Regions from separate parts of the Homo sapiens genome. Here all the other regions are linked to region 2. Evidence: fine-mapped expression QTL. A gene starts in region 2. Each other region holds a variant in brackets. All regions are shown on one strand. Distances are between the middles of the regions.

Region 1 (7,980 bases), 37 kb before region 2:
GGAATAGGCTTTAGGCCAGGGAGCTTCCATATCAGCCTGATGTGAGTTGTCTCCTGAACTGTATGGACACCCTTAAGTCCTCTTGAAGAAGAGGAATCCCTGATGCTGCCCTCCGGGCAAATGAAGGTGCTGTCCTCTAGCCTCTGGGAAGACTGCAGCCAAGTATATTCCCCGAATAGCATTGCACAACACTACGTACACTGTTTTGCTCAATAATCCAGGATTTTTAAAAAAATCTGGTGAATTAAGGAGAAGCTCAGCGTTTGAAAGTTAATAATAGATGACTTCTCATTAGCATAAAGATGTTTCAGGGATTATACATATTTCGGCTTAAGCATATTCTTATCCATGCACAAAAACTGTTAAAACTATACAAATTGACTTTTTCAAAAAATTTTGTTTCTAGGTTTAAATAGGCTGCCAATTGGAGATAACACTAATTCCCATGATGGTATAAATTAAAGGCTCTGGAAATTGGCAGTGCTTTCAGCTTCCGTAAGTTGATACCGTAACTCCTAGGTAATTATTGACTAAGTTCTTTTTTTTTTTTTTTTTTTTGAGACAGAGTCTCGCTCTGTTGCCCAGGCTGGAGTGCAGTGGCGTGATCTTGGCTGACTGCAACCTCTGGTTCAAGCAATTCTCCTGTCTCAGCCTCCTGAGCAGCTGGGATTACAGGCGTGCACCACCATGCCCGGCTAAGTTTTGTATTTTTAGTAGAGATCGGGTTTCACCATGTTGGCCAGGCTGGTCTTGAACTCCTGACCTTAGGTGAGAGACGGGGTTTCACCATGTTGGCCAGGCTGGTCTCGAACTCCTGACCTTAGGTGATCCGCCTGCCTCGGCCTCCCAAAGTGCTGGGGTTATAGGCATGAGCCACTGCGCTCGGCAGGACTAAGTTCTTATGAGTCATTATGGGACAGCCCTCAATAGAGAAGTCTGCTTTCATTATCTCTGAAATTGTTTGCTGTAGTGAATAAGCAAAGCATTTGGTAAGAGAAAAATAAGGCATTTTCTTATTCATGGCTAGTTTATCTTTTTTATCTTACTTTTGTTTAAAGACTCCTGCTTTTTAACTCAGATTAGAAATTGAGTCTCCTTGAACAAATTTTTTTTTTTTTTTTTAAAGGAGTCTCGCACTGTCGCCTAGGCTGGAGTACAGTGGCACTATCTCAGCCCACTGCAACCTCCACCTCCTGGGTTCAAGCAATTCTCCCACCTCAGCCTCCTGAGTAGCTGGGATTACAGGCGCACCTACTACGCCTGGCTAATTTTTTGTATTTTTAGTAGTGACAGGGTCTCACCATGTTGGCCAGGCTGGTCTCAAACTCCTGACCTCAAGTGATTCGCCTGCCTTGGCCTCCCAAAGTGCTGGGATTACAGGCGTGAGCCACCGCGCCCAGCCCCTGGAACAAATTTTTAAGAGCATTGATCAGAAATGTACCTGGCAAGTAGCAACCCATAGCAAGAAACTGAATCAGGGTTTCAAGTGCCCTATCAGAACAGAAGTGAACAATTTAATGGAATTAAACTACTTAACAGAAGACCCTTGGTTCAAGGCAGACGATTATAAATACAATACTGATTTATATGTTATTCTATTTGTTAACTATTTTTAATCACAAAATACGTATTTCTTATTTTTGACCATACTATTCCTAAGAAAAACTCTTTGTATCATTGATTAGAGTCAGTAAGATCATATCTGCAAGAGGGAACTTCAGCAGCTTTAGGGATTGCCATTCACATTCCATCTGGAATACAGAGAAGGTCCTTCATATTAAAATATTCCAGTGGAAAAAGATGTGAGTTTTGCAAGATTACAGCATACAAAATCACTATACATAAATCCATTTTATTTCTACATACCATCAATAAACAACTGAAAATTGACACTTAAAAATAGCATCAAAATATGAAATACTTAGGGGCAAATCTGACAAGAGATATGTAAGGCCTGTATACCAGAAATGACAAAACAATGCCGACAAAAATGAAAGAAGTCTTATGTAAATGGAGAGCTATACTGTGTTCACGTACTGTAAGACACAGTATTATTTATGTGTAAGTTCTCCACAAATTGATACAGATTCAACTCGATCCCAATCAAAATCTCAGCAGGCATTTTTGTTAAAAACTGACAAGCTGATTCTAAAATTCATATGAAAAAACAAAGAATAACGAAAAGAACTTGCAAAAAAAAGCAAAGATGGAGGATTTTTTATTTTATTTTATTTTATTTTGAGATGGAGTCTCGCACTGTTGCCTGGGCTGGAGTGCAATAGTGTGATCTCGGCTCACTGCAACCTCCGCCTCCCGAGTTCACGCGATCCTCCTGCCTCAGCCTCCCGAGTAGCTGTGATTACAGGTGCGCACCACCACACTCGGCTAGTTTTTTTTGTATTTTTAGTAGAGATGGGGTTTCACTATGTTGGCCAGACTAGTCTCGAACTCCTGACCTTGTGATCCGCCTGCCTAAGCTTCCCAAAGAAGATGGAGGATTTACAGTGAGTTCAAGACCTAATAAAGCTACAGTAATCAAAACTGTGGTATTGGCATAGAGACACTAACAGAGGAGTAGAAAAAACATAGAGTCCAGGTATAGACCTATCACATATGGTCAACTGATCTTCCACAAAGATACATAGGAAATTCAGTTAAAAAAGGGTAGTGTTTTCAATAAATGGTGCTGGAAAAATTGGATATTTGTATGCCCTTCCTCCCCTAAAAAAGTACATAAATTCAGATCTTTTATCAAGTATATTTACTCAAAATAGGCTTATAGACCTAAATGTAATTAAAAATTGTAAAATTACTAAAAGAAAAAAATGAGAATCTTTTTGACCTTACTTTAGACTAAAATTTCTTAAATACACTACCAAAACTGCAATTCATAAGAGAAAAGATTGAAAACTGGACTTCATCCAAATTAAAATTTCTCTTTGAAAGGCACTATTAAGATTATAGAAAGTAAACCACAGAAAAAATGTTTGTAAATCATATATCTGATAATGGACTTCTACATAGAATATGTGAAGAACTCTCAAACTCAATAATACAAAAATAAGAAACCACATTTTTAAATGGGCAAAAGATGTGAAAACGTACTTCACTAAAGAAGATATAAGATAGCAAATAAGCACATGAAGATACTCAACATCATCAGTCATTAAGAAAATGTTAAAACCACGGTAAGATGCCACTCACTACACAGCTATAAGAATGTCTGAAATTAATAACCAAGCCAAGTTTTGACAAATATGGAACACCTGGAGCTCTCATACACTGCTGTGGGAATGTGAAATGGTGCGGCCACTTTGGAAAGCAGTTTGTGAGTTTCTTCAAAAGTTGAATATATATTGTATCCATCATCATACAACCCAGCCATTCCAGTCCCAGGTATTTATTCAACAGAAATGAAAGCATTATATTCACACAAAAACTTGCATGCTTAAAACAGCTTTATTTATATTTGTCAAAAA[T/C]GAAAACCCAAATACCTTTTAATAGGTCAGTATTAAAATGTGACCTAGACATATAAAGGAATACTCAGCAATAAAAATTAATAAACTATTGATACACACATTATAGATAAAATTCAAAATACTTATGCTGAGTGAAGAATCCAGTTGTATCCTGTATAATCCAGTTATACAAATTCTAGAAAATGCAGACAAATCTATAATTATAGAAAGCTGATCAGTGGTTGCCCAGGTACAGGGGAGGACAGGAAGGAGTGGGAGGTAGGATTACAGTAAGGCGAAAGAAAATTTTCAAGGATGACAGACATGCTTGTTACTTTAGCTGTGGCAGTGCTTTCATGCATGTATACATATGCCAAAACTAACCAAATTTCACACCTATATAAGTGTAGTTTATTATACCTTAAAAAACATATCTTATAATATACCTTAATTGCTGTATCTTAATAACATTTTTATCATTATTTTACTTTATTTTTTTTTGAGACAGAGTCTCACTCTGTAGCCCAGGCTGGAGTACAGTGGTGTGATCTCAGTTCATTGCAACCTTCGCCTCCCAGGTTCAAGCGATTCTCACTCCTCAGCCATCCGAGTAGCTGGTATTTCAGGCATGCACCACCAGGCTCGGCTAATTTGTGTATTTTTAGTAGAGACGGGATTTTGCCATGTTGGCCAGGCTGGTCTCAAACTCCTGGCCTCAAGTGATCCACCCACCTCAGCCTCTCAAAGTCTGGGATTACAGGCGTGAGCCACTGTGCCCACCCCATTTTTATATAACGAAATGCTTTTAAAAAGACAAAAGCACTCAGTTGCTACATAGTGTAATACCAGCTATATAGTTACATTTAAAAGCAAAAAATAAAACAAAAATAAAATGCCAGGAAACCATGAAAATAAACAAGTAAGAAGATAAAGCAGGCAAAAATTTATTTCTATCTCCCAGCATTCATATAAAATTAATTCCAGTTAAAGACCTAAATGTTTCCATAATTTATATGGGATTTCTACAAATCAATAACAAAAAGAATAGACCCATTGAAAAGTAGGCAAACACCTTGAATGGTCAAATCACAGATGGGGAAACAGGAAGGGCCAAGCAACATATGAAAAGATGCTCATGCTCACTAGTAAGCAACTTAAAAACCCCTCTGAGATTTCACTTCCAGCTGAATAGATGGATAAAACATGAGGTCTCACAATCCCAAATGTTGGTGAGGATGTACAACAAGAATTCTCATAGACTCCTGCTGGGAGCATAAGCTGCCATGCCCACTTCAGAACACAAGTTGGCATAACTTATATAAGTTGAGGCTATGCATGCCTGTGAACCAGCTACTACACACCTAAGTATATATCTTTTTTTTTTTCTTTGTGAGATGGAGACTCGCTCTGTCACCTAGGCTGGAGTGCAGTGGCGCAATCTCAGTTCACTGCAACGTCCGCCTCCCGGATTCAAGCAATTCTCCTGCCTCAGCCTCCCAAGTAGCTAAGATTATAGGCATGCGCCACCACACCCAGCTAATTTTTCTATTTTTAGTAGAGACGGGGTTTCACCATGTTGGCCAGAATGGTCTCGAATTCCTGACCTCGTGATCCACCTGCCTCGGCCTCCCAGAGTGCTGGGATTACAGGTGTGAGCCACTGCACCTGGCCGGTATATATTTTAAGAGAAACTCTTGGACATGTTCCCAAGGAGGCATACAAGAATACAGAGCAAGATTATTTCATAGCCAAAAAGTTGGAAACAACTTAATAACATTATGTGCAGAGAAGTTTACAGACATGCAAAACAACACCCTATATGAGTGAAGAACCCATCAGATGGAATAAAAGGATAAAGACAGTCATGGAATGCTAACTCAGAAAACAGAGGCGGAGGAACGGGACACAATCAGGAAAAGTATGGGGCTATTACCTGGTTTTATAACATGCTATCTCTTAGGGTACAGGGCTGCCCCAACCCTACTCATTGTACAGTTTTTCACACCTTGCTGTAATCTTAAATAATCTATGATAAAAGAAACAAAGTTATGAGAATTTACAGGATAGAAATGATGCACAAAAAAGCTACCAGGTTAAGAATAGAAACTGGCTGGGCGTGGTGGCTCACGCCTGTAATCCCAACACTTTGGGAAGCAAAGGCAGATGGATTGCCTGAGCTCAGGAATTCAAGACCAGCCTGACCAATAAGGTGAAACCCCATCTCTACTAAAAATACAAAAAAATTTAGCTGGGCATGATGGCGGGCACCTGTAGTCCCAGCTACTCAGGAGGGTGAGGCAGGAGAAATCACTTGAACACAGGAGGCAGAGGTTGCAGTGAGCCGAGATCATGCCATTGCACTCCAGCCTGGGTGACAGAACGAGACTCTGTCTCAAAAAAAATAAAAATAAAAATAAAAAACCAGGGGCAGGGACTTAGTCTCAAAGGACAGGTACTGTTTTGAAGATCATGCCAACCACATGAGCCCAAGAATGGAGAAATCCTGAATGTGCTCGAGAAAGGAAGCCAAGTGAGGAGTGAGGCTCCCTGATGGAGGAAGGAGATGGAATGCCAGGGGTGCCCTGTCCTGGGGGGAGGCACACAGTGTGGAAGGCAGGCAGTGCCATGCAGCCTTTACCAGTGGCCTAGGAGGCCTGAAGAAGAACTTCCTCCTAGCACCTCAAAGATAGCCCCTCCTTCCTTACCTGCTGAGCTCCTCACTGCCCTGCACCCTCGCTTGCCCAGGGCTTCCCACTCACCTGGACAAAGGTCCAGAAGATGTTCGTTCTCCTCTCTCCAAGGTTCGTCGCCTTGCTCCAGCTGTTCGATGAGTTTTGGTTTGGAAAATGCAATTCCTACTCACAGGAAAAAAAAACCAAGGTGATCTTGAGTTAGTGGCTTAAGAGGCTATCTCAGAACTCAGAGCCAACCCAGGAATGCAATAAACCCAGAAGGTGGTAGGGAGGTGCAGGGGTGGAGTAAACTATGTCTGAATGCTAAGAAAGGATGCATACAGGGAGGGGATCCTAGACCTAAAGGCAGTATGTTGATTCTACCCTGTGCTTGAGTCAATAAAAATATTCCTCCTTTTGAAGGAGGATAACCTTAGAGGAGGAGCCCAGCCAGGGTAAACAGGCCTGAAAAATGCAGTGTCAGACACACCACACGCTCACAGCATGTGCACGCGCACACACACACACACACACACACACACACACACAACTGCACTGTGAAAGCCAGGCATTCTCTGGGGGAATAGGGGAAAAAACTGTTTTTCTGAGTCAGAAGCATGGCAGCTTGCTATGTAAGAGCTTAAAATACCCACAAGCAGAATCTGAAACCTTAAACAGGCCAGCCTTACCCAGGGAGACCAGATGGCTGTAGTTCTCCAGCATCACCTCCCTGTACAGGGTCCTCTGAGCAGAACTCAATAGCTTCCACTCCTTCTGGGTGAAGGCCACAGCCACATCCCGGAAGGCCATCAATGCCTGTAACACAAACACATCCCTGCTCACTCAACAGCCAGCCATGCCCACTAACCAACTTAAGCCACTAACCACAGTCAAGGCAGAAAGAAGCAGTCCTAGAGCACCCAAGTGAGATTTACAGATCCTGCTTTTAACCTGAAACCTGGTTCCATATATTCAAGACTATTAATCCCCTCCATACACTGATGCTGGTTCTATTTCTGGGCTCTCTGTTGTGCTGATCAAACACACAAGTTTGATTATCGCAGCTACATAGCAGGACTGGAAATCAGGTAAACCGATTCCTCTCACTTTATTCTTCATGTTGAAAGTTGATTTAGCTATTCTAAAATAGCCTGTGCCTGTGCCTTTCTATGCAAATTTTAGAATAATCTTGTCTATATCTCTAAAAGCCTTTGCTGAAATTTTGATAGGATTCCCATTAAACCTGTATATCAATTTGGTGAGAACTTACATCTTTACTATATTGGATCTTCAAATCCATAAACACAGTATGTCTCTCCATTTGTTTAGACCGTCTATGATTTCTTTCATCAACATTTTGTGATTTTCTGCAAACAGACCCTACACATTTTGTTAGATTTACACCTAAGAATTTCTTCAGCTTTCTTCTTTTTTTTAAGTAATTTTAATGGTACTGTATTTTAACTTCAGTGACCATATGTTCATGCTATGACATATGATACAATTGTTTGTCTGTTTTTTCTTCTATACGGCAAGCTGACTAAACTTTACTTAGCTTTAAAAGCTTTTTTTCCCTTCGTTCCTTGAGATTTTCTACATAGACAATCATGTCCTCTGCAAATAGGAACAGTTTCATTTCTTTGTTAATGATCTGTATGTCTCTTATTTCCTTTTCTTGCCTTATTGCTGTGGTTAGAACTTCCAGCGCTATGTTGAATGAGAGTGGTAAGAACAGATATAACGTTGGTTTGTTCCCAATCATGGAAGGAAAGCATTTAATCTTTCACCATTAAGAATACTGTTCTGGCCAGATGCAATGGCTCACATCTGTAATCCCAGCACTTTGAGAG
Region 2 (7,980 bases):
CACGCCTGTAGCCCAGCTACTCAGGAGGTTGAGGCAGGAGAATCGCTTGAACTTGGGAGGCAGAGGTTGCAGTGAGCCGAGATCGCACCACTGCACTCCAGCCTGGGCGACAGAGTGAAACTCTGTCTCAAAACAAAAACAAAAACAAAAGAAAAGAAAAAAAGAAATCATGACCCTTCTCTTGTCAGAACCCGGCAGTAGATCTCGCTGACCTCAGATAAGATCCACACACAATCTTGGCACCCTAGGCTTTCCCCAGTAATAGCCTAACCCCCTTTTCCCATCTGAGTTTCTATCCTCCATGAACTTCCTTTTCCAGGCAAAAAAGACAACTGATACCCTCAAAGTCAGTCAGTTGCACAGTCCAGGTGGGTGCCAAGCACTGTGTCAGTGACCCATGAGGAGCCAGACAAGGTGCCTGTCCCCTCAAAGAACTATCTCAAAACCAGTGGGACAGTCAGACAGTTGAGATATACCATGCCAGCCGTGGAGTCCTCATATAATAAAGTGCTCTGAAACTAAAAAGGACAATGGAAGTAATTCTGCCAGAGAAAACTCAGGAAAGCTTTGTAGTGGACAAATATCTGTAGTGAGGCAACTTTTGAGACAAATACGGAAACAACACAGCCTGAATAAGTGATACTAAATAAATTCTGTTAATTTTCTTGGGTATGATCATTAATGCTGAAGTTGTTTTTCTTTAAATTCCTTATTTATGAGAGATGCATACTGAACACTGAAGTATTAGATTGGTGCAAAAGTAATTGTGGTTTTTGCCATTTACAGATGAAATGATATGACATTTGAATTTTGTTTTAAAGAACTACATCAGAGAAGTGTCATACACAAGTTTTACTTCGTTCTACATTCACAGCAGCTCCACGAGGTTAAGTACCTTGCTCAAAGTGACAGTGACAAAGGGAGAGACCTGGATTTGAACTCACTCTATGAAGGGTCACTCAAGACACCAAATCCTGGTATAGACCCCTAGTGAAAGAGACAATTTCCAAAGAGATCCACACTTGGGGTTGCAGATTTGGGGGAAAGAAGACAGGTGAGTCATTTGTAAGTGGTGAATCTGAGTGATGAATCCATGGAACTTCAAAACTACTTCTGGATATCTTTGCAATGTTTTCATACTGAGAAGTTAGAAATAAGAGTAGGTCTTGGCCGGGCGCAGTGGCTCACGCTTGTAATCCCAGCACTTTGGGAGGCCGAGGCCGGTGGATCAGGAGGTCAGGAGTTCAAGACCAGCCTGACCAACATGGTGAAACCCCGTCTCGAGCGGGGTGCGGTGGCTCACGCCTGAAATCCCAGCACTTTGGGAGGCCGAGGCGGGCGGATCACGAGGTCGGGAGATCGAGACCATCCTAGCCAACATGGTAAAAACACAAAAATTAGCCAGGTGTGGTAGCGCGTGCCTGTAGTCCCAGCTACTCGGGAGGCTGAGGCAGGAGAATACCTTGAACCCGGGAGGCGGAGTTTGCAGTGAGCCGAGATCGCGCCGCGCCACCCCACTGCACTCCAGCCTGGCGACAGAGCAAGACTCCCTCTCAAAACAAACAAACAAACAAACAAACAAAAAACAAACCCCGTCTCTACTAAAAATACAAAAAAAATTAGCCGGGCGTGGTGGCGGGCGCCTGTGGTACCAGCTACTCAGGAGCCTGAGGCAGAGAATTGCTTGAACCCGGGAGGCCGTGGTTGCAGTGAGCTGAGATCACTCCACTGCACTCCAGCCTGGGCGACAGAGTGAGACTTCATCTCAAAAAAAAAAAAAAAAAAAAAAAAAATGTAGGTTTGGATGCCTTCCACCCAACTTCTTCCCCCACCTCCAGGAATTCAAGGAGTCACTCAACAGCCCCCTGAGGCTTGAGAAAAATGTTCCTTGGCCCTATGGGCACCATTCTGCTTGTTGCAACCCATGCTCCCGGAAGGGTCCCCAAGTCCGAGGGAGCCACACAGCTGCAGAAGCCGACAATCTGGATACAAGCACGCCCCCATGCAACCCACAACCCAGGGATGTCTAACTCCAGGCAAGCCCTTCTCAACTCACCAACTTGGGTCCCCAGGCCCCAAGGCTACTGACCCGAGTCGCACGGCCCTAGCCGTCCCCCCCCCCACTATCAAGACCAAGTCTGGATGTCTACCCACAAACAATCCTCCCCCACAAACCCGGGTCCTAGTGGCCAAGCTGCACCATCACCACCACAGTGCACCAGCCATCCACAAGAGCCCTAATAACTGGACTGAGGTTGGGCACGGTGGCTCACGCCTGTAATCCCAGTACTTTGGGAGGCCGAGGCGGGGGGATTACTTGAGGTCAGGAGTTCGAGACCAGCCTTGCCAACATGGTGAAACCCCGTCTCTACTAAAACACAAAATATTAGCCGGGCGTGGTGGCGTGCGCCTGTAGTCCCAGCTACTCGGGAGCCTGAGGCAGGGGAATCACGCCACTGCACTCCAGCCTGGGCGACAAGAGCGAAACTCTGTCTCAAAAAAACAAAACAAAACAAAAACCAAAAAATTAGCCGGGCGTGGTGGCGGGTGCCTGTAATCCCAGCTGCTCGGGAGGCTGACGCGGGAGCATGGCTTGAACCCGGCGGCTGGGGTGGGGCGCGGAGATTGCAGTGAACCGAGATTGCGCCACTGCACTCCAGCCTGGGCGACAGAGAGAGACTCTGTTTCAAAAATAAATAAATAAATAAATAAAATTTAATAAATAAACAAATAAACAACCCGACTGATGCCCAAGCCGCGTGCCTCCCACTAATGGGGAAGTTTGCTCCAACCGAGGATATCATGTCCTCCAAAGGCACATTTGCTGGCCCAGAGACCTCCGAGGCGCGATGGTGGGGAGGGGATGGCGGGATACTAGTGGCAGGATGCTGTCTGGGTACCCCAGGCAGAGCCCACTCAGCGGCCCCCGAAGTACCGGGGACGCACCTGCGAAGTAGCTCGGGAAGTCGGTCCCAGGCCTGCACTGGCCCCTCCAGGTCAACATACTGGGCCCAAAGTCCCGCCAGAAGCACGCGACAACGCCAACGCCCCCTCCCCACCAGAGGACCTCCGCCAAGACCTCTCTCCGGGGTGGACCACGCACGCCCAGACCCCACAGCCGAAACTCAAAACACCAAGGAACATGTGGCCACGACATGGACTGCCCATGCCAGCTTTCCCGACCTTCCTTCCAGTGGAAGGCCCGCGAAAGCGGGGACCACCTCCGGGCTAGCTCACCAGAACTGTGAAAGGACACTCACCACGCACCAGGCGACGATGCCGGAACGCGGAAGTACGCGAGCCGGACTGCCCCTGGGCACGGAACTACACTACCCAGACTGCCACGGGGCGCGCAACTACCCTACCGTGGATGCCCTGGAGCGAGGGACTACAACATCCAGAATGCTGCGAGGGGCGGGACCGCAGCATCCAGGAGAAATTGTGAAAAATCAGAAAGTAAAATCTAACTTTCGGGTCTATGAGAAGGGTGGTCAGGTGAGCAGTAAGTCTTCTTTAACTTTTTATACGGTCCTTCTAATTTTTTTTTTTTTTAAAAAGATGTTACATGTCCTCCATCCTGCAAATTCACACCTGTGATTGTACACCCCTGAACTTTATCTACTTACTTATTTTTTGAGAAGGGGTCTTGCTCTGTCGGCCAGGCTGCAGTACAATGGTGTGATCATAGCTCACTGCAGCCTCAAACCCCTGGCCAAGCAATCCTCTCACCTCAACTTTCTGAGTAGCTGGGAATACAGGTGCATAGCACCACACCGGGCTAATTTTTTGTTTTGTTTTTTAGAATCTGGGTCTCGCGGCCGGGCGCGGTGGCTCACGCCTGTAATCCCAGCACTTTGGGAGGCTGAGGCGGGCGGATCAGAGGTCAGGAGTTCGAGAGCAGCCTGGCCAATGTGGTAAAATCCCGTCTCTACTAAAAATACAAAAATTACCTGGGCGTCGTGATGGGCGCCTGTAGTCCCGGCTACTCAGGAGGGTGAGGCAGGAGAATCACTTTGAACTCGGGAGGTGGAGGTTGCAGTGAGCCAAGATCGCACCACTGTACTCCAGCCTGGACAACAGAGTGAGATTCCTTCTCAAGGGGGAAAAAAAAAAAAAAGAATCTGGGTCTCGCTATGTTGACCAGGCTGGTCTGGAACTCCTGGCCTCAAGCAATTTTCCCACTTCAGGCTCCCAAAGTGCTGGGATTACAGGCGTGAGCCGTCCTTGTGGCCCAGGCTGCCTTTCGAGTTTATTTAGGGCCCTCTAGCCAGAGGTGGTGAGATTGGCAGTAACTCAAATTCCAACTGCTGGGATAGGTGATTCTCCTCGGGCTAAGGCTGGTGTAAATACTCCCTCCATGCGTGAGAATCAGCTGTGTTTGATCCAGTTTTGCTTTCTGGTATAACAGGGCAGCACTGAGTTCAATGCAATGTCTCATCATTGCTGTGCTTGCCGTCTCCCAAGAACATAGATTCTCTCTCCGCACCACAGAGCCACTGCTGGGGGATGGGTCAGGGGCATTGGTGATTCAAGACTGTCTTTCCTACCTTTTCAGTGCCTCTTTCAGTCATATGAAGTAAAAACCAGGTACTGCGAGTGCTTACCTGATTTTTGGTTCTTGTGAAGGTGCTTTTGTGTGTAAATAGTTGTTAACTTGTTTTTCTTACAAGGGGGAATGATCAGTGGAGCCTTCCATTCCACCATCTTGCTCCACCTCCCACCCCCATGTTTTAAATGACAGTGTGTATGAATGTACTTCTAAAAATGCCAAAAATACTGGGGTTTTTTTTCCTGTTATAAAGAAGAAGATTCTGAAGTTTTTTTTTTAATTCCAATTGATTACAAGAAGATAAGGAAAAACTAAACTTGAGGACATTTAACACTATAGCAATTAAAGTTATCTTACTAATGCAAAGATTGTTTATTAGATGTAACAGAATAATACGCTCAAAAACATACCAAAGTCTTTGCAAAATGAGTTATACTCTTTTTCTAAGAATTTGATAAAAAGTGGTATTTTTAAGTTACTTCCTATTTGCTTCTTCTCAAAATGAAGTAACAGGAACCAGATTTAGCCCTTCACCTTAATCAACATTTAAAAGGACAAAATATATGAAACATTTGAAGACATTTGACATCAGACAATGAAGAGCAGTGGAAATCATGGAGGTGAGCCTTTGAACTTCCCGCAGATGGAGAGAATTTCCAAGTCATAGCACAGAGAAGGGAAACTCAAGTGAAGCATGGAGTTCAACTTGAGGAGATGGAACTGGGAATCTGAGGAGGCATATGCATCTAGAGTTCACAGGGCAGAGTACAGAAAGGGAGAGAGAGCGCCAGAGATGTGCAGAGAGTCCTCTTCCTCAGGTATTAGTTAAGTGCTGACCAGCATGTACATGTGAGGAAACTCCTCAAAATTAGGGGTAAAAAACACTAGAAAGGGTTAGAGGGCAATACTGTGAGCTCAAAAAGAACAGGAATAATGTCTGTTCCCACGAGACAGAGTGGAAATGCTAATTCACATGGCATCAAGTCATGTACTCGGAAGGGTTTTGCCTCAATAGTGGGGCAAAAATTAACCTAAATGCTTCTCTGGTCTCACCTAACAGAGCTTAAATCCAAGCCTAGAAAGGACTGAATTGTTCCCAAGTAACTTAACTGCATCCCAGATAAAAAGCTCAAGAATATTTAAAAGAATACAAAACTATCCAGCATCCAATAAGGCAAAATTGGGGACTTTTTTTTTTTTTTTCTATTCTTACACCTGCTTCCATCCTAAGACCCTGGATTTTAGAATTCCAATTAAAAAAATGCTAGCATGCAAAGAATATATTCCCCAAAATGAAGAGAAAAGTCAACCAATAGAAATTACACAGAAGATATAATTAAAAGGTAAGGACACAAGCTGGGCACAGTGGCATGCGTCTGTAGTTGCAGCTACTTAGGAGGCTGCTTAAAACGATTGGGACAATTGCTTAAACCTAGGGGTTCCAGACCATCCTGGGCAAGACCCTAGCAAGACCCTGTCTAAAAAAAAAAAACCAAGATAAGAGCACTAAAACATTTATTGTAACTACAACTTCAAGAAGCTACAGGAAACACTTCGAGACCCTGTCTAAAAAAAAAAAACCAAGATAAGAGCACTAAAACATTTATTATAACTACAACTTCAAGAAGCTACAGGAAACACTTCAAGAAGGGTTTTTCTATACATCATGCCATACTGGATGGTATGATGATTAATTTTACATGTCAACTTGGCTACACTATAATGACCAATTATTTGGTAGTAGTCTAGATACTACCATGTAGATATCTTACATGTGTAATTAACATTTTCAGTCAGTTGACTTTAAGGGAGATTACACTCCATAATGTGGGAGGGTTTCATCTAATCAGTTGAAGGCCTTAACGGCAAAATCTGAGGTTTCCAGAGAAGGAATTCTGCCTTAAGACTCTAACAGAAATCCTCCCTGATGTTTTAGCCTGCTGTCCTGCCCCGTGAATTTTAGACTCAAGATTGCAATATCAACTCTTACCTGAATTTTCAGCCTGCCTGCCCTACAGATTTCAGACTTGCCAGCCCCTGCAATTGCATGAGCCAATCCCTTAAATAAATCAGTCACTCTCTCCCACTTGATAAACACTTGATAAACAGATCAATAGATAGAATATATATATGTATATATACACACATATATATATATATATATACAGATACATATATCCTATTAGTTTTTTCCTATCCTATTACTTTTTTCTTTATATATCCTATATATACATATATCCTACTCACTCTCTCTCTCTCTCTCTCTCTATATATATATATCCTATTAGTTCTATTTCTCTGGAAGACTTTGACTGACACAGTTGGTATTGCAGCAGACTGGACATTTCAGGGGAAAAAGAAGTTAGCCTGAAGACATGGAAGGGGAAACTATTCAAAGTAAAACAGGGATAAAAAATACTCAAATGAAAATTATGTGATGAAAATTATAAGCCAACAGATTAAAGCATCTCAGTGAAGCCTATGCAGAGGAAACATGAAAATAACAACACCAAGGTACAACTGCTTAAAAGCAGCTATAAAGAAACTTGTTTTAAAAAGCCAGAAAGAGGAGACATATTATGTACAAATGAACAAAGATAACAGCAGATTTCATTCAATAAAAAATGCGGCCGGGCACGGTGGCTCACGCCTGTAATCCCAGCACTTTGGGAGGCCAAGGCAGGTGGATCATAAGGTCAGGAGTACAAGACCAGCCTGACCAACATGGTGAAACACTGTCTCTACCAAAAATACAAAAATTAGCCGGGAGTGGTGGTGCGCACCTGTAATCCCAGATACTCAGGAGGCTGAGGCAGGAGAATCGTTTGAACCCAGGAGGCGGAGGTTGCTGTGAGCCAAGATCGCACCATTGCACTCCAGCCTGGGTGACAGAGTGAGACTCTATCTCAAAAAAAAAAAAAAAAAAAAAGCAAGGTAAAAGGAGCAACATCTTTAAAGCACTGAAAAAAAAAGCCAATGTATCAACTTAGAATTTTTTACCCAGTGAAAAAACAGGATGTCCTTCAATCAAAAGGAAAAGGATACTAGATGGAAATAAGGATCTACACAGAGAAATGAAAAATGCTAGAAAGAATATGTAAAAGCTGTGTTTCTATTTAAATAGCTTTAATACATAATAAACTGTTTAAAGTAATAAGAAGGTATTGTGATGTTTATGATATATATAGAAGTGAAATGCGTAACTATGATAACAGAAAGGCCAGGGCTGAAATGGAAGCACATTGTTGTAAGGTTCTACTTTGTGTAAATAGTATAATACCACCAAAGGTAAATTGTGGTAAATTAAAGATGTGTAATATAAACTCAAAGATATAACTGAAATAACACAACCAACATATACCCAATGAACCAACAAAGGACAAATGAAATCATTAAAAATACTCAATTCAAAAGAGGGCAGGGAAAAGAAT
Region 3 (7,775 bases), 360 kb before region 2:
CTCAAGTTCTGAGCTTTTCAGCACTAATTGCATGACGAAGACCCACTAGATTGTTGAAAGAGAATATAGGGTAAAATATGGGTGGGAAGAGAAGGATATTTCACTCTTTTTACTATGTCTTACTTTTTATGATAGAAAATGAGATTTAAAAAAGAGGCAGTAGAGGGTAAGTATAGTGATGATACGATGTGAACTCAGAGTTGAGAGTGTAAGACAACAATAGAGACTATGTCAAAACTGTCCTTTAAGTCCCCTAGTCAATGGTCTATAAGCTATGAGCCCCGGGCTGAGTCCAGCCTGTGGCCTAATGTGTACAGCCTGTGAACAAAGAATAACCATTTTTACATTTTTAAATAGTTGAAAAAAACTAAAGAACAAAGTTTCGTGATCCATTTTAAGTTTTACTCTTCACGAATGAAGCTTTAATTGGCATTTGGTCACATTCATTTTTTCACATACTGCCTTTGGCTGATTCTCTGCTGCACTGTCAAAGTTTTGTAGTTATGATAGAGACTGTATGGCCCATAAAACTGAAAAATTTACTATCTGTCTGTCTGTAGAAACAGTTTACTGAGCTTTGCTCTAAGTCGTAGAAAGCACACAGCATAGGATGAGAATCCAGCCCTGCTCGGGTCTCCTAACACCTGACTCGGGCAGTCACCCCTCCTCCAGAGCTGCTTTTTCTGAGAGAGAGAGAGAGAGAGAAAGAGAGAGAGAGAGAGGAGAGAGAGGAGAGGGAGGAGGAGGAGGAGAGGGAGGAGAGGGAGAGGGAGAGGTGCTCAATTATACGAATAAGTGAAAAATAGAATGAAAACCCATCCACCCATCAGGAAACATGATAAAATCCAAGGTACATCCTCTTAGCTTTAGCTCTTGTTTTGTTTTATTTTTTCAAAGTATATATTTTAGGCCGGATGCGGTGGCTCACGCCTGTAATCCCAGCACTTTGGGAGGCCGAGGTGGGTGGATCACAAGGTCAGGAGATTGAGACTGCCTTGGCTAACACTGTGAAACCCCGTCTCTACTAAAAATACAAAAAAACAGCCAGGCATGGTGGTGGGCGCCTGTAGTCCCGGGAGGCTGAGGCAGGAGAATCGCTTGAACCTGGGAGGTGGAGGTTGCAGTGAGCCGAGATCACACCACTGCACTCCAGCCTGGGCAACAGAACAAGACTCCGTCTCAAAAAAAAAAGTATATATATATATAGTTTTAACAGCTTTGGGGGGTACAAATAGTTTTTGGTGACATGAATGAATTGTATAGTGGTGAAGTCTGAGATTTTAGTTTATACCTCACGAGAATAGTATATATTGTATCCAATATGCAGTTTTTTTATCCCTCATCCCCTCCCATCACCCCCTTCTAAGTCTCCAAAGTCTACCATACCATTCTATATTCAGCTCTTGTTTATTTCAGAACTGAAACCTCACAGGCTGGAATCGACTGAAGAGGTTGGTTCAGCTGAACTCTGTTCTAGGACACAAAGGCATTAACTTAAGAACTGAGACCCTTGGCCTAGCGAGATGGCTCACGCCTGTAATCCCAGCACTTTGGGAGGCCGAGGTGGGCGGATCATGAGGTCAGGAGATTGAGACCATCCTGGCTAACACGGTGAAACCCCGTCTCTACTAAAAATTACAAAAAATTAACTGGGCATGGTGGCGGGCGCCTGTAGTCCCAGGTACTCAGGAGGCTGAGGCAGGAGAATGGCATGAACCTGGGAGGTGGAGGTTGCAGTGAGCCAAGATCGCGCTACTGGACTCCAGTCCGGGTGACAGAGCTAGACTCCGTCTCAAAAAAAAAAAAAAAGAACTGAGACCCAAATTTGCACTTTATCTCTAAAAGTGACTTATTGTCTAGTATTATACATAATTTCCTTTCAAATATGTGAAAAGTAGAGCCCCCATGGCACAGTTATCTTTGGTCATTGGAACGTATTTTGCTTTTTATCTTGGGTAAGAGGCAGATCCACATCACAATCAGTTTGAGGAATAGAAGATTCAAATTCTCATACTAGAAAGGCAAAAAGGCAACAATTTATCCATTTTCCAAGTCATGCCAAGGAACATACCATTTCTGTTGTAGACATGGAAGAATGCAATTTTCCTTGCAAAATATCAAATCCACAGAATAGCAGGAGAGGTTTGTAGCAAAATTCTTCCTTGCAGAGGAAGACATCTGGCTAATGTGTTAACCACAACTAAAGCAGTGTTGATGTTTACTAAGCCCATTCTCCATCTCAGTCCCCCCAAATAATACTTTTTAAGGAAAAAAAACCTGGGAAATTGAGAGACATTGGCTATCAACTAAAAAAAAAAAATCAAGCCAGCTTGCAACAGCAGCTTGAATTATGAATGACAGAATTCTCAACAATAAGGCTCGGCTGTCTTCTCAATGAACCAGAAGTGACTTTTTTAAAAGACAGAAAGTGGGGCCTGGTGCGGTGGCTCACCCCGGTAATCCCAGCACTTTGGGAGGCCCAGGCGGGCGGATCACGAGGTCAGGAGATTGCGACCATCCTGGCTAACACGGTGAAACCCCATCTCCACCAAAAATACAAAAAATCAGCCGGGTGTGGTGGCAGGCCCCTGTAGTCCCAGCTACCTGGGAGGCTGAGGCAGGAGAATGGTGTGAACCTGGGAGGCGGAGCTTGCAGTGAGCCGAGATCGCACCACTGCACTCCAGCCTGGGTGACAGAGCAAGACTCTGTCTCAAAAAATAAATAAAT[A/T]AATTAATTAATTAATAAAAAGAAAGTGATGATGAGTATGACACAGACCTCTAAGTCATTTCAGTTTTTTGAAGCCTTATTGATTGCTTGAAACAGCTGAAACCAGTTGAGGGCTCATGAGGCATAAACATAGACATCTATAATGCTTCCAAGGGGATTTTTCCTGCTTTCTGCAGAGATGATTGTTGGCTAGAATCGCACCATGGTGCCCACGCCCAGTGGGGCAGCATCAGTAACTGTGACCCTGCCATGGTGACCAGGCCTTGCTACACGATTCCTGGAAAGGCACGTGGAAGGATGTGTGGTCATGTTGCATGCAGCTCCTGCCACAGCATCTTTCCAGGGCCTACCGACTACTACTATTTCTTTTTTGAGACAGAGTCTCTCTCTGTCGCCCAGGCTGGAGTGCAGTGGCGCCATCTCAGCTCCCTGCGACCTCTGCCTCCCTGGTTCAAGCGATTTTCCTGCCTCAGCCTCCTGAGTAGCTGGGACTACAGGCGCCCACCACCACGCTTGGCTAATTTTTTGTATTTTTAGTAGAGACGGGGTTTCATTGTTTTAGCCAGGATGGTCTCGATCTCCTGACCTCGTGATCCGCCCACCTCGGCCTCCCAAAGTGCTGGAATTACAGGCGTGAGCCACCGCGCCCGGCCACGACTACTACTATTCTTTCTCTTTCTTCTCCCTGTCCCTCCCCCTTCTCCCTCCCTCCTCCTCCCCCTGCTCCTCCTCGTCCCCCCCTTCCTCCTCTGCCTTCTTCCCCTCCTCCTTCTCCCTCCTCTTCTTCTTCCTTTTCTTCCTTCTTCCTTTTTCTTTCTTTTTTTCTTTTTTTGAGATGGAGTCTCCTGTGTCGCCCAGGCTGGAGTGCAGTAGCACGATCTCGGCTCACTGCAAGCCCTGCCTCCCGGGTTCACGCCATTCTCCTGCCTCAGCCTCCCGAGTAGCTGGGACTACAGGCGCCCGCCACCACGCTTGGCTAATTTTTTTTGTATTTTTAGTAGAGACGGGGTTTCACCGTGTGTTAGCCAGGATGGTGGCAATCTCCTGACCTCGTGATCCGCCCGCCTCGGCCTCCCAAAGTGCTAGGATTACAGGCGTGAGCCACTGCGTCCGGCCTTTTTTTTTTCTTCTTTTTTTTCTTTTTTTTGAGACAAGGTCTCACTCTGTCGCCCAGGCTGAGAGCAGTGGCGCCATCATGGCTCACTGCAGCCTCACCCTCCCGGGTTTAAGCCATCCTCCTACCTCAGCCTCCTGAGTGGCTGGGACTACAGGTGCACCACCACACCTGGCTAATTTTTGTATTGTCTGTAGAGACAAGGGGGTCTCGCTATGTTTCCCAGGCTGGTGTTGAACTCCTGGGCTGAGGCGATCCTCCCGCCTCGACCTCCCAAAGTGTTGGGATTACGGGCATGAGCCACGGTGCCTGGCCCCACCAGTGTCTGGCTGGAGACATCCTGACAGGGCGAATTCTCCTGCAATGCTGGGTAACCATCATGGTTTGTCCAAATATTGAGTTGAAATCTGTTTCATTTTGCTCACTTGGCTGTTTAGAGCATAAGAAAATAAGATTCTTTGACATGTTTGGAAACAGTGTTTCTGCCCTCCCAATAATGCCCACCACACCCACTTTTTTTCCCTTTAAGCTGAACATCTTTCACAGGAGAGGGATCTGAGACTTCTCTCTAGCCTGATCACCCTCTACTGGACATACTCTAACTTGCAATGTCCTTTACAGCTCCCACCACAAAAGCAGAGATTCAGAAAAGTAGGGTTTGGTTTCTGCTCCGAGGAAAGACCACTGTGGACGTGACAGTCTCTCCTCCCCCAGGCCCTCCGTTTCTGTGCCTACTTCTCCTTATGTGATGACATGGAATAATATGTGATGACATGGAGCCAGTGCCTACAGCAGGTGGTGGCCTCAGATAGGCAGAGAAAGGAAGGGTCCAGAGGTTTCTGATTTTGCCAAGTGCTCCGTGCTCATTGGTCCCTGGGCATCTGCAGGAGAATGGAATATGTTTCCCTTGGAGGAAAGGCATGCATTGCTGAGCATTTGGAGGAAGGAATTAGAAAGGGGGCTGATCCCAGCTCTTTGGGAGGCTGAGGCAGGCGGATCACCTGAGGTCCAGAGTTCGAGACCATCTTGGCCAACATGGTGAAACCCCATCTCTACTAAAAATAAAAAAAAAAATTAGCCAGGCGTGGTGGTGGGCGCCTGTAATCCCAGCTACTTGGGAGGCTGAGGCAGGAGAATCACTTGAACCCAAGAGGTGGAGGTTGTAGTGAGCCAAGATTGTGCCACTGCACTCCAGCCTGGCGATAGAGCAAGACTCTGTCTCCAAAAAAAAAAAAAAAAAAAAAAAAATTGGGGGCTGGGCTAGAAAAGAATTCCTCCAAATCCATGGCTCAGTGGGATAATTTTCTCTTCGTTTTGAGTATGTGGGTCATAGACAAGTATTACTATTATTTTTTATTCCGTGCGAGGAAGTGTATAAATGTAGAGCATTTGGTGACCGTATGTCAGGGAAGGGCTGTTTACTTTTGCACCTTTGCCACAGGCCGGCACGGATGGTTCTGGGCGAGGTGAATCTCTGGGAAAAGGGGCCTTTATTGGCAGAGAACTGGTTACTTGAAGCCTGCAGTGGGAGGAGAGGAGAGTTAGAGTCCTGAGTCCACCCACTGTGTACCTGGCTTCAAGGGAAGCTGGTGATTGTTAAAATGAGCCTCTGACAGGCAGCGCATGTTGACAAAGGCCATTAATTTCATTTTTCAAGGTTGTGCATTGGCAAAACTTGGAATTATTCCCTCAAAGTTTTGATCCTGTAAGTTTAGTCTGTGTTTAGCTCCACTGTACTGTCTGGTGAATACAAACCAAACTGAATCAAATAACCCAGTGCAACCAGCTAACTAACCACCTCCCCAGGTGAAAACTAGGAGGGGCAGGGAAGCGGTGGAAAGAAATGGGTTTGTGGTTTTCTGGTTTGTGGTTTTCTCATTTATATGAGTAGTTGTTATGCTTGAATGTGAAGTTCTTACACTTGAGTGTGAAGGTCACCCCTTCACATTGCATAGTGCAATGCAGATTCTCAGGCCCCGCCATGGAAAGTCTGACAGTGTGTCTAGGCTGTAGCCCCAGAATATGCATTTCTTTTCTTTTTCTTAAAGAGGCAGGTTCTCATTCTGTCACCCAGGCATGTGCAGTGGAATGATAATGGCTCACTGCAGCCTCGACCTCCCAGGTTCAAGTGATCCTCCAGCCTCAGCCTCCTTAGTAGCCACAGGCACATGCCACCATGCCTGGCTAATTAAAAAAAAATTTTTTTTCGTAGAGATGGGGTCTCCCAGTGTTGCACAAACTGGTCTCAAACTCCTTGCCTCAAATGATCCTCCTACCTTAGCCTCCCAAAGTGCTGGGATTATAGGGATGAGTCATGACCCCGGCTGTGAATGTGCATTTTTAATAAATATCCCAGGTGATTCTAATGCAGGTGCTCTGTGGGCCACCCTTTTGAAAGTTATGGGAAGAAATTACCTGGAATGTTTTGCTGGGATGACTTCCTTCTCCAGCTGCGTGATACAGATGCCCCTGCTTACGCTCAGCTGCAGGAATCTAGGAAAAGAATAAGTGAAGTTCGAGAAATTGCATATTTTTATTTCTGCTTAATTCAAGCAGAGAGTAGTTAAGCTGAAAGATTTGTTTGGGGCTGTCTTGATGACCAAAGAGGTCAATCCAGTGTTAATAAAGAAGATCAGGCTGGGCGCAGTGGCTCACGCCTGTAATCCCAGCACTTTGGGAGGCCGAGGCAGGTGGATCACGAGGTCAGGAAATAGAGACCATCCTGGCTAACACGGTGAAACCCCCTCTCTACTAAAAATACAAAAAATTAACTGGGTGTGGTGGCAGGCGCCTGTACTCCCAGCTACTTGGGAGGCTGAGGCAGGAGAATGGTGTGAACCCGCGAGGCGGAGCTTGCAGTGAGCCGAGATAGCACCACTGCACTCCAGCCTGGGCGACAGAGCGAGACTCCGTGTCAAAAAAAAAAAAAAAGAAGAAAATCATTAATAGTAAGAAATCAGTGGTTAGGAGCTGTCTCCTTAAGGGGCTCCCTTCCCTAGTGTTAGAAAAACTCTGGACCACATGACCCAGTGGGCTGTGTTTTTAATGAAAAAATGGATTACGGCACATGCCACGTTCTAAGTGTAGGTATTATTTTGGTAACTTTTTGGTGTGTGTGTGGGGGCACTGGTTTGTGATGTAAAATGTGCTTCTTCCCATGCATCACGGTTAAAACACTGGACAGCATCTGCTCTACCCCATAATGACTCTGGGGAGATATTCTGAGTTCCTACGTTTCTGAGAATTTCCCTGACGTGTGAGTGATATAGACCACATGCTCAGCAGAGTATGGGCTGCAGCGGCAAGAGCTCACAAAACTGATTTCCTCCGCAGACTGGCTGCCCTGCAGCCCAGTGTTAATTTATTTAAATAAAGATGGAGTAGGCAGGTGACAGAGATGGATGCCCGTAATAAGATTAAATTAGTGGGAACTGGCAAGAAGGCATGCTCTTTTTTGGAACTGATAGTGGAGAGATGAGGGAATATCACATTAGAAAAATTGGAGGAGGGCCCTAATTGGAAAGAGGAATCCAGATGCAGGAAATCTGGGTTCTGGTGGGAAGGCTGCCGTGATAATCTAATCAGGATATTGCTGATGTGTAGGGGAAGGCCCCTCTGGGAAGATGCCCTATTTCATTAGAAGAGCACCTTGAGAATGCCTCCTGTTAATGGTTGAACTGTAAAAAAGAATCACAAAACAAAACAAAAACATTCTTTGATTTCTTTCTTGCTCTAGAAATCAACTGATGAGCCTTCTGAGAAGGATGCTCTGCAACCAGGCCGGAACCTGGTGGCAGCCGGCTACGCACTGTATGGCAGTGCCACCATGCTGGTCCTTGCCATGGACTGTGGGGTCAACTGCTTCATGCTGGACCCGGTGAGAGACCTCACAGGAGGCTGGGGGCTTGGCTGGTGTCTGTGAGCAAATGAATG
Region 4 (7,980 bases), 95 kb before region 2:
CTCTTCTCCTTTTTCCACTAAAGGCCTGGTTGCCTTGACTGCTTCCAAGAGACTGGCAGGGAAAAGCAGTCTAACCATCCACAAATGTTAGCTAGATGGTAAGCCTCCAACTCTCAATAATGAACCTGCCTACTGAGGGAAACACAGCCAACTCCAAATATAATGGGATTTTCTTGTGTTGTTTGTTTGTTTGAGACAGGGTCTTCCTCTGTCTCCCAGGCTGGGGTGCAGTGGCACCGTCTTGGTTCACTGTAGCCTCAACCTCCCGGGCTGACGTGATCCTCCTACCTTAGCCTCCTGAGTAGCTGGGACTATAGGTGTGTGCCACCACATCCCGCTAATTTTTTATTTTTAGTAGAGATGAGGTTTTGCCACGTTGCCCAGGCTGGTCTCAAACTCCTGGGCTTAAGGAATCCTCCGACCTTGACCTCCCAAAGTGCTGGGATTACAGGTGTGAGCCATTGTACCAGGCCAAAATTAGTTTAGACCAGATCAGATTGTCCTATTTAATAGCCTTTACTCTGAGATATTGGTTAAGCTCACAGAGCTGGGTCCCAGGCAAACTAACTGAGTCTAAGCCCCAGGGTGGTGGCACCTGCCCCAACCTCTGCATTGCCCAACCCTCACAGAGGCAGGAAATTCCTCCTTCCTGATGCTGCAATCAGTCCTAGTCAGTTTCAGAATCGGGGGTCATATGCAGATTACAAAAGGCCATCTTCAAAGAAGCTGCTTATAGATTTCATGAAGTTTCTTAGGAAGTAAAACTTTCTGACTTATAGACAGCAAATGGCTTCCAAGAAGAATAGTACTGCTCACATAATAGTGCAGTATGAGCTGGGTGCAATGGCTCACGCCTGTAATCCCAGCACCTTGGAAGGCCAAGGCGGGGGGATCACCTGAGGTCAGGAGTTCGAGACCAGCCTGATCAACATGGAGAAACCCCATCTCTACTAAAAATACAAAAAATTAGCCAGGCATGGTGGTGCATGCCTGTCATCTCAGCTACTCGGGAGGCTGAGACAGGAGAATCACTTGAACCTGGGAGGCAGAGATTGCAGTGAGCTGAGATCGCACCATTGCACTCCAGTCTGGGCAACAAGAGCAAAACCCTGTCTCAAACAAAACAAAACAAAACAAACACTGCAGTATAACCTGAAATGGGGTATACAAGCATCTTTTCACCCATGATAGGCCACTCCTTACAAGAAATCCCATTATTCATTTTAAAAAAGAAATGGCAGCCAGGTGTGGTGGCTCATGCCTGTAATCCCAGCACTTTGGGAGGCTGAGGCAGGCAGATCATGAGGTCAGGGGTCATGAGATCAGGAGTTCAAGACCAGCCTGGCCAACCTGGTGAAACCCCGTCTTTACTAAAAATACAAAAATTAGCTGGGCATGGTGGTGTGCGCCTGTAATCCCAGCTACTCAGGAGGCTGAGGCAGGAGAACTGCTTGAACCAGGGAGGCAGAGGTTGCAGTGAGCCAAGATCAGGCCACAGCACTCCAGCCTGGGCAACAGAGCAAGACTCCGTCTCGGGGTGGAAAAAAAAAAGAAATGGCTATGTTATAGTTTTGACAGTAAATAATTTGTAAGTCATTACTCTCATATGGTGAAAACATCTACTCTCCTATAATTGAAAAAAAACTTTTTTTTTTTTTTTTGAGACAGAGACTCTCTCTGTTGCCCAAGCTGGAGTGCAGTGGTGCAATCTTGGCTCACTACAGCCTCTGCCTCCCAGATTCAAGCAATTCTCCTGCCTCAGCCTCCCGAGTAACTGGGATTACAGATGTGCACCACCACGCCTGGCTAATTTTTGTATTTTTAGTAGAGACGAGGTTTCATTATGTTGGCCAGGCTGGTCTCAAACTCCTGACCTAAGGAGATCCTCCCACCTCGGCCTCCCAAAGCGCTGGGATTACAGACGTGAGCCACTGCGCCCAGCCTGAAAAAAAAACTTTAAGGAAGGTTTTTTAAGGTTCCTAGGGCTGGTTATTGCTGGAAATCATAAACAAAGTGACCATTTAAGTATAAGAATCATCTGTATATCTAGCCTAGCCAACGTGGTGAAACATCGTCTCTACTAAAAATACAAAAATTAGCTGGGCGTGGGGCATGGTGGCACACACCTGTAATCCTAGCTACTTGGGAGGCTGAGGCAGGAGAATGGCTTGAACCCGGGAGGTGGAGGTTGCAGTGACCAAGATCGCGCCATTGCACCCCAGCCTGGGCAAACTCTGTCTCAAAAAAAAAAAAAAAAAAAAAGAAACATCTGAATTTGACTTTTAAAATTATGACTATATATCATAATTCAATCAATAAATATGTTAAATGATTTTTTTCTATGAAGGATAAAGTAATATTTTCCCTAAAACCAATCATAAGAAGAAAAGTACTTCCTTTAGTGCAAAGTTATAACATAGGCCAGTGGTTCTCAAAGTGTGGCATAGGGAACCCTGGAGAATCCCCAAATCTTTTTTTAGAAGAACGGTCTATGAGGTCAAAAGTATTCTCAAAACAATACTGGGGCCGAGCGCAGTGGCTCACACCTGTAATCCCAGTACTTTGGGAGGCCGAGGCAGGCGGATCACTGGAGGTCAGGATCCCTGACCAACTTGGTGAAGCCCTGTCTCTACTAAAAATACAAAAATTAGCCAGGTGTGGTGGCAAACACCTATAATCCCAGCTATTTGGGAGGCTGAGGCAGGAGAATTGCTTGAACCTGGGAGGTGGAAGTTGCAGTGAGCTGAGATCACGTGAGTGCGCTCCAGCCTGGGCAAGAGTGAATCTCCATCTCAAAAAAAAAAAAAAAAAAAGATACTGGGAATGACTTGTCTAATTTACTTTCATTGTCTCATGAGTGTAGACAATGAGTAGAGCTTTGCTGAGCCTGTAAGATACATAGAATTACATATATACAATTGAATCCTGTGTCTTCTGTTAAGGCAGAAAAAATTCTTTGCAAAATTGTAAAACAATGTCATTCTTCTCACTATAACTTTTTTCTTTTGGAAATTCTTTTGTGAAGTTATTTTTTGCATAACTGTTATTTATGTTAACATTTTTATTGTATTCATGTAAACATTATTTTATATATTTTAATTTTAAGTTAGCCTACAGTAAAATTGACTTTTCTTGTGTACAGTTCTATCAGTTTATTATTATTATTATTATTATTTTGAAACAGGGTCTCACTGTCACCCAGGCTGAAGTACACTGGCATGATCACAGCTCACTGCAGCCTCCCCCTCCTGGGTTCCAGCGATCCTCCCACCTCAGGCTCCGAAGTAGCTGCGATTACAAGCATGCACCATCACACCGGGCTAATTTTTCTATTTTTTGTAGAGATGGGGTTTTGCCATGTTGCCCACGCTGGTCTTAAACTCCTTGGCTCAAGTGATCCTCCAGCCTCGGCCTCCCAAAGTCCTGGGATTACAGGCATAAGCCACCATGACTGGCCAGTTCCTGAAGTTTTAAAAAACACAGATTCATATAGCCACTGCTTCAATGCAGATACAAAAGAGCTCTATCACCCTAAGAAACTCCCTCGTGCTGCTCCCTTAAGGCCACATTCTCCCACTAACTCCTGGCAACCACCGATTTGTTGCCTAACATTTATAGTTGCATCTTTTTGAGGTTGTCATAAATGAAATAATACAATATGTAAACCTTTTGAGACAGGCTTCTTTCACTCAGAATGTTACCTTTGAGATCAATCAAGTTGCTGGGTCCCTTTTTTTGCCGGGTAGTCTTCCATTCACTGTATGGATGTACCAAAGATTACTTACTCATTTACCAGTGGGAGAAGTTTTCAGTGTTTCCAGTTTGGGGGTATTACAAACAAAGCTTTATGAAACACCGCTATACAAGTTTTCATGTGACCATAACTTTTCTTTTTTTTAATTTTATGGTTTTTTTTT[G/T]TTTGTTTTTTTTTTTTTGAGACAGAGTCTAGCTCTGTCGCCCAGGCTGGAGTGCAGTGGCGCAATCTCGGCTCACTGCAAGCTCTGCCTCCTGGGTTCATACCATTCTCCTGCCTCAGCCTCCCGAGTAGCTGGGACTACAGGCGCCCACCACCACACCCGGCTAATTTTTTGTATTTTTAGTAGGGAGGGGGTTTCACCGTGTTCGCCAGGATGGTCTCGATCTCCTGACCTTGTGATCCACCTGCCTCGGCCTCCCAAAGTGCTGGGATTACAGGCATGAGCCTCCGCACCCGGCCGTAACTTTTCATTTGCTAAGGTAAATACCTAGGAGTGGGACTGGTGGGTCATATAGTAAGTATATGTTTAACTTTATAAAAGGCTGCCAAGTGTTCTTCCAGAGTGACTGCATCATTCTCCATTCCCACCAGAAATGTGTGCAAGTTCTAGTTACTCCACATTCTCCACATCACTTGGTCAGGTCAGTTTTTCTATTTTAGCTGATGGTGTGGTGTCTCACTATGGTTTTTTTGGTTTGTTTTTTGGGAGGCAAGGTCTCACTCTGTCACCCAGGCAGGGGTGCAGTGGTGCTATCATAGCTCACTACAACTTCAATCTCCAGGGCTCAAGTAATCCTCTCACTTCAGCCTCCCAAGTAGCTGGGACTACAGCGGTATGCCACCTATTTTTTATTTTTAGTAGAGACATGCCCAGCTATTTTTGATTTTTAGTAGAGACAGGGTCTCACTATGTTGGCCAGGCTGGTCTGGAACTCCTGAGCTCAAGCAATCCTCCTGCCTCAGCTTCCCAAAATGCTGGCATTACAGGCATGAGCCACTGTCCCCAGCCTCACTATGGTTTTAATTTGCACTTCCTGATAGCTAATGATGTTGAAAATATTTTCTTGTGCTTATTTTCCATCGATATAACTTCTTTGATGAAGTATCTGCTCAAGTCTTTTACCCATTTTTTACTTAAACTCTATTTTCCTTCTGTTGAGTTTTGAGAGGTCTTTATATACTCTGAATACTAGTCTTTGTCAGATAAGTGATTTCTCAACATTTTCTCCAAGTCTGTGGTGTGTATTTTTATTCTCTTCACAGTGTATTTTGCAGAGCATGGGTTTTAAATTTTATGAATCCAATTTGTCATGTTTTTTAGTGGATCAGGCATTTGACATCATATCTAAGAACTTTTTGTCTAACTTCAGTTCATGAAAATTTTCTTCTGTTTTCTTTTTTAAATATTATGCTTTGAATTTTAACATTTACGTGTAAAATCAATTTTTAGTTAGTCTGTGTATAAGGTGAAATTTAGGTCAAGGTTCATTTTTTTGCAGGATGACTAATTATCCCAACACTGGTTTTGGAAAGACTGTCCTTTCTCCTTTGAATTACTTTTGCACCTCTGTCAAAAATCAATTGGTCATCACCTCATACCCATCAGAATGACTACTGTAAAACAAAACAAAAAACAGAAAATAATGAGTGCTGGTGTCAGAGGCATTTGAGCCAGAGCAACTCCATCTTGAATAGGAGCTGGGTAAAATAAGGCTGAGACCTGCTGGGCTGCATTCCCAGGAGGTTAGGCATTCTGAGTCACAGGATGAGATACAAGGTCAGCACAAGATACAAGTCACAAAGACCTTGCTGATAAAACAAGTTGCAGTAAAGAAGCCGGCCAAAACCCACCAAAACCAAGATGGTGATGACAGTGACCTCTGGTGGTCCTCACTGCTCATTTTACACTAATTATAACGCATTAGCATGCTAAGAGACACTCCCACCAGCACCATGACCATTTACAAATGCCATGGCAATGTCAGGAAGTTACTCTATATGGTCTAAAAAGGGGAGGAACTCTCATTTCTGGGAACTGCCCACCCCTTTCCCAGAAAACTCATGAATAATCCACCCCTTGTTTAGCATATCATCAAGAAATAACTATAAGTATACTCCAGTCAAGCAGCCCATGCCGCTGCTCTGCCTATGGAGTAGCCATTCTTTATTCCCTTACTTTTTTTTTTCTTTTTTGAGACTGAGTCTTGCTCTGTCACCTAGGCTGGAGTGCTGGAGTACAGTGGCGCAATCTTGGCTCACTGCAACCTCTGCCTCCTGGGTTCAAGCAATTCTCCTGCTTCAGCCTCCCAAGCAGCTGGGACTACAGACATGTGCCACTATGCCCAGCTAATTTTTGTATTTTTATGAGAGGCAGGGTTTCACCATGTTGGCCAGGCTGGTCTCGAACTCCTGACCTCATGATCCACCCGCCTCGGCCTCCCAAAGTGCTGGGATGACAGGCATGAGCCACCGTGCCCGGCCTATTCCTTTACTTTCTTAATAAACTTGCTTTCACTTTACTCTATGGGCTTGTGTGAATTCTTTCTTGGGAGAGGTCCAAGAACCCTCTCTTGGGCTCTGGGTCAGGACCCCTTTTTGGTAACACTGCTGAGAATATGGAGAAACTGAAACTCTTGAGCACTGTTGTCATGAGAATGTAAAATGGTGTAGCCACTAAGGTAAACAGTACGGTGGCGCCTCAAAAAATTAAAGAGAGAATTACACTATGATCCAGCAATTCTACTTCTGGGTGTATATTAATAATAATGTATGCTAAATAACATATACTACTAATAATAACCAAACTTGATTTATCCTGCTATACTCACCAACACAGAGTACTTCAGACACCAGATGTGTATGGGGTTCTCCCCACACACCAAGTAAGTAACCAGCTCTGCAGCATGGACACCAACTGGGTGTCCTCTAATTCAATTCAATTCTGACACTATCTACCTGGAGAGAGCATCAGATCCCACAGGTTGAGTGCTCAGTCCACAAGACTGCCCCCCACTTCCTATGCCAATTGCAAGCCCCAGGTTGCTTTACCTGCACTTCTTACTGACTGGCTATAAATGGGGGATCCCCACCTCTGGTCCGATTAATTTGCTAGAGTGGCTCACAGAACTCAGGAAGACACTTAACTTTTAACTTACATTTACCAGTTTATTATAAAGAATATTACAAAGGGTATTGATGAAAAGATGCCTAGGGTAAGAGATGAAAATAGACGTGGAGCTTTTATACCCTCCCAGGCATGCCACCCTCCAGGAACTTTCATGAGTTCAACTATTCAGAAACTTCCCACACCCTGTCATTTGCAGTTTTTATAGAAGCTTTGTTAGGTAGGCATAATTGATTAAACCATTGACCGCTGGTGATCAACTTAACCTTGAGCCCCTTTTTCCTCTCTAAAGGATGGGGGTAGGGCCAAAAGTCCCAACCGTCTAATCATTTCTGGTGACCAGCCCCCATCCTGAAGCTACCTAGGAGCTGCCAGCCATCTGGCAACTCATTAGCACACAAAAAGACATCACTTTGGAGATTCCAAGGATCTTAGGAGTTGTATGCCAGGAAATTGGAACAAAGACCAAATATATATTTCACAGTACAACAATACCCAAAAGAATTGAAAGCAGGGAATCGAACAGATATTTGTATACCCATGTTCATAGCAGCATTATTCACAATAGCCAAAAGGTAGAAGGAACCCAAGTGTCCATGCATGAATGAATGGATAAACAAGATGTTGTATACACAAACGAGAGAATATTATTCAGTGTTAAAAAGGAAAGAATTTCTGACAAATGGATGAACCTTGAGGACATTACATTAAGTGAAATAAGCCAGTCACAAATACTGTATGATTACTTATATGAGGTACCTAACATAGTCAAGCTTATAGAAAGAGAAAGTAGAATGCGGGTTGCCAGGAGCTGGGGAAAGGAGAAAGGGGCAGTTGTTGTTTAACGGAAATAGAGTTTGTTTTGCAAGACGAAAAAGTTCTGGAAATTAGCTGCACAACAATATGAATATATTAAACCATACTGAACTGTATGCTTAAAAATGGTTACGATGGTAAATTTATGTTACATGTATTTTACCGCAATTTAAAACAATTGGCCATATTTGTGAGGATCTATGTGTGGGTCCCATTCTGTTCCATTGATCTATATGTCTAAGTCTTCTCCAATACCACACTGCCTTGATTTCTGTAACTTGAT

Which allele goes with the higher level. Alleles are on the strand shown, and positions count from the first base shown. SD is a standard deviation of normalised expression in the study named. Not every link is listed here.
With allele G in place of T in region 4, the expression in skeletal muscle of the gene that starts at base 3,308 in region 2 is lower (moderate effect, 0.53 SD a copy in FUSION).

Evidence for each region. PIP is the estimated chance that this variant, and not a neighbour inherited with it, causes the effect. A credible set is the group of variants that fine-mapping cannot tell apart.
Region 1: its variant is the best candidate, but not a certain one, in a credible set for the expression of ZNF169 in tibial nerve (GTEx, PIP 0.76).
Region 3: its variant is the best candidate, but not a certain one, in a credible set for the expression of ZNF169 in nasal epithelium (TOPMed, PIP 0.87).
Region 4: its variant is the best candidate, but not a certain one, in a credible set for the expression of ZNF169 in skeletal muscle (FUSION, PIP 0.87).

The regions. Positions count from the first base shown.
Region 1 is chr9:94,291,307-94,299,286 of GRCh38, reverse strand. It overlaps ZNF169 (zinc finger protein 169), which reads right to left. Exons shown (of 5, transcript NM_194320.4): 3 at 6,820-6,946; 4 at 6,218-6,313. Among named protein-coding and RNA genes, the nearest start is that of NUTM2F, 33 kb to the left of the region's middle. The variant T/C (reference allele first, on the strand shown) is at 3,480.
Region 2 is chr9:94,254,626-94,262,605 of GRCh38, reverse strand. ZNF169 (zinc finger protein 169) reads right to left here and starts at 3,308. Exons shown (of 5, transcript NM_194320.4): 1 at 3,261-3,308. It overlaps LINC02603 (long intergenic non-protein coding RNA 2603), which reads left to right and starts at 3,295. Exons shown (of 3, transcript NR_160773.1): 1 at 3,295-3,495. RefSeq lists enhancers at 1,851-2,496, 2,826-2,955, 2,497-3,143, 2,986-3,305, 3,144-3,789.
Region 3 is chr9:94,609,865-94,617,639 of GRCh38, reverse strand. FBP1 (fructose-bisphosphatase 1) reads left to right here. Exons shown (of 7, transcript NM_000507.4): 4 at 7,579-7,719. Among named protein-coding and RNA genes, the nearest start is that of FBP2, 20 kb to the right of the region's middle. RefSeq lists an enhancer at 7,166-7,665. The variant A/T (reference allele first, on the strand shown) is at 2,729.
Region 4 is chr9:94,350,007-94,357,986 of GRCh38, reverse strand. All of the region lies in intron 2 of LOC100132077 (a long non-coding RNA gene), which reads right to left. Among named protein-coding and RNA genes, the nearest start is that of SLC71A2, 21 kb to the left of the region's middle. The variant G/T (reference allele first, on the strand shown) is at 3,918.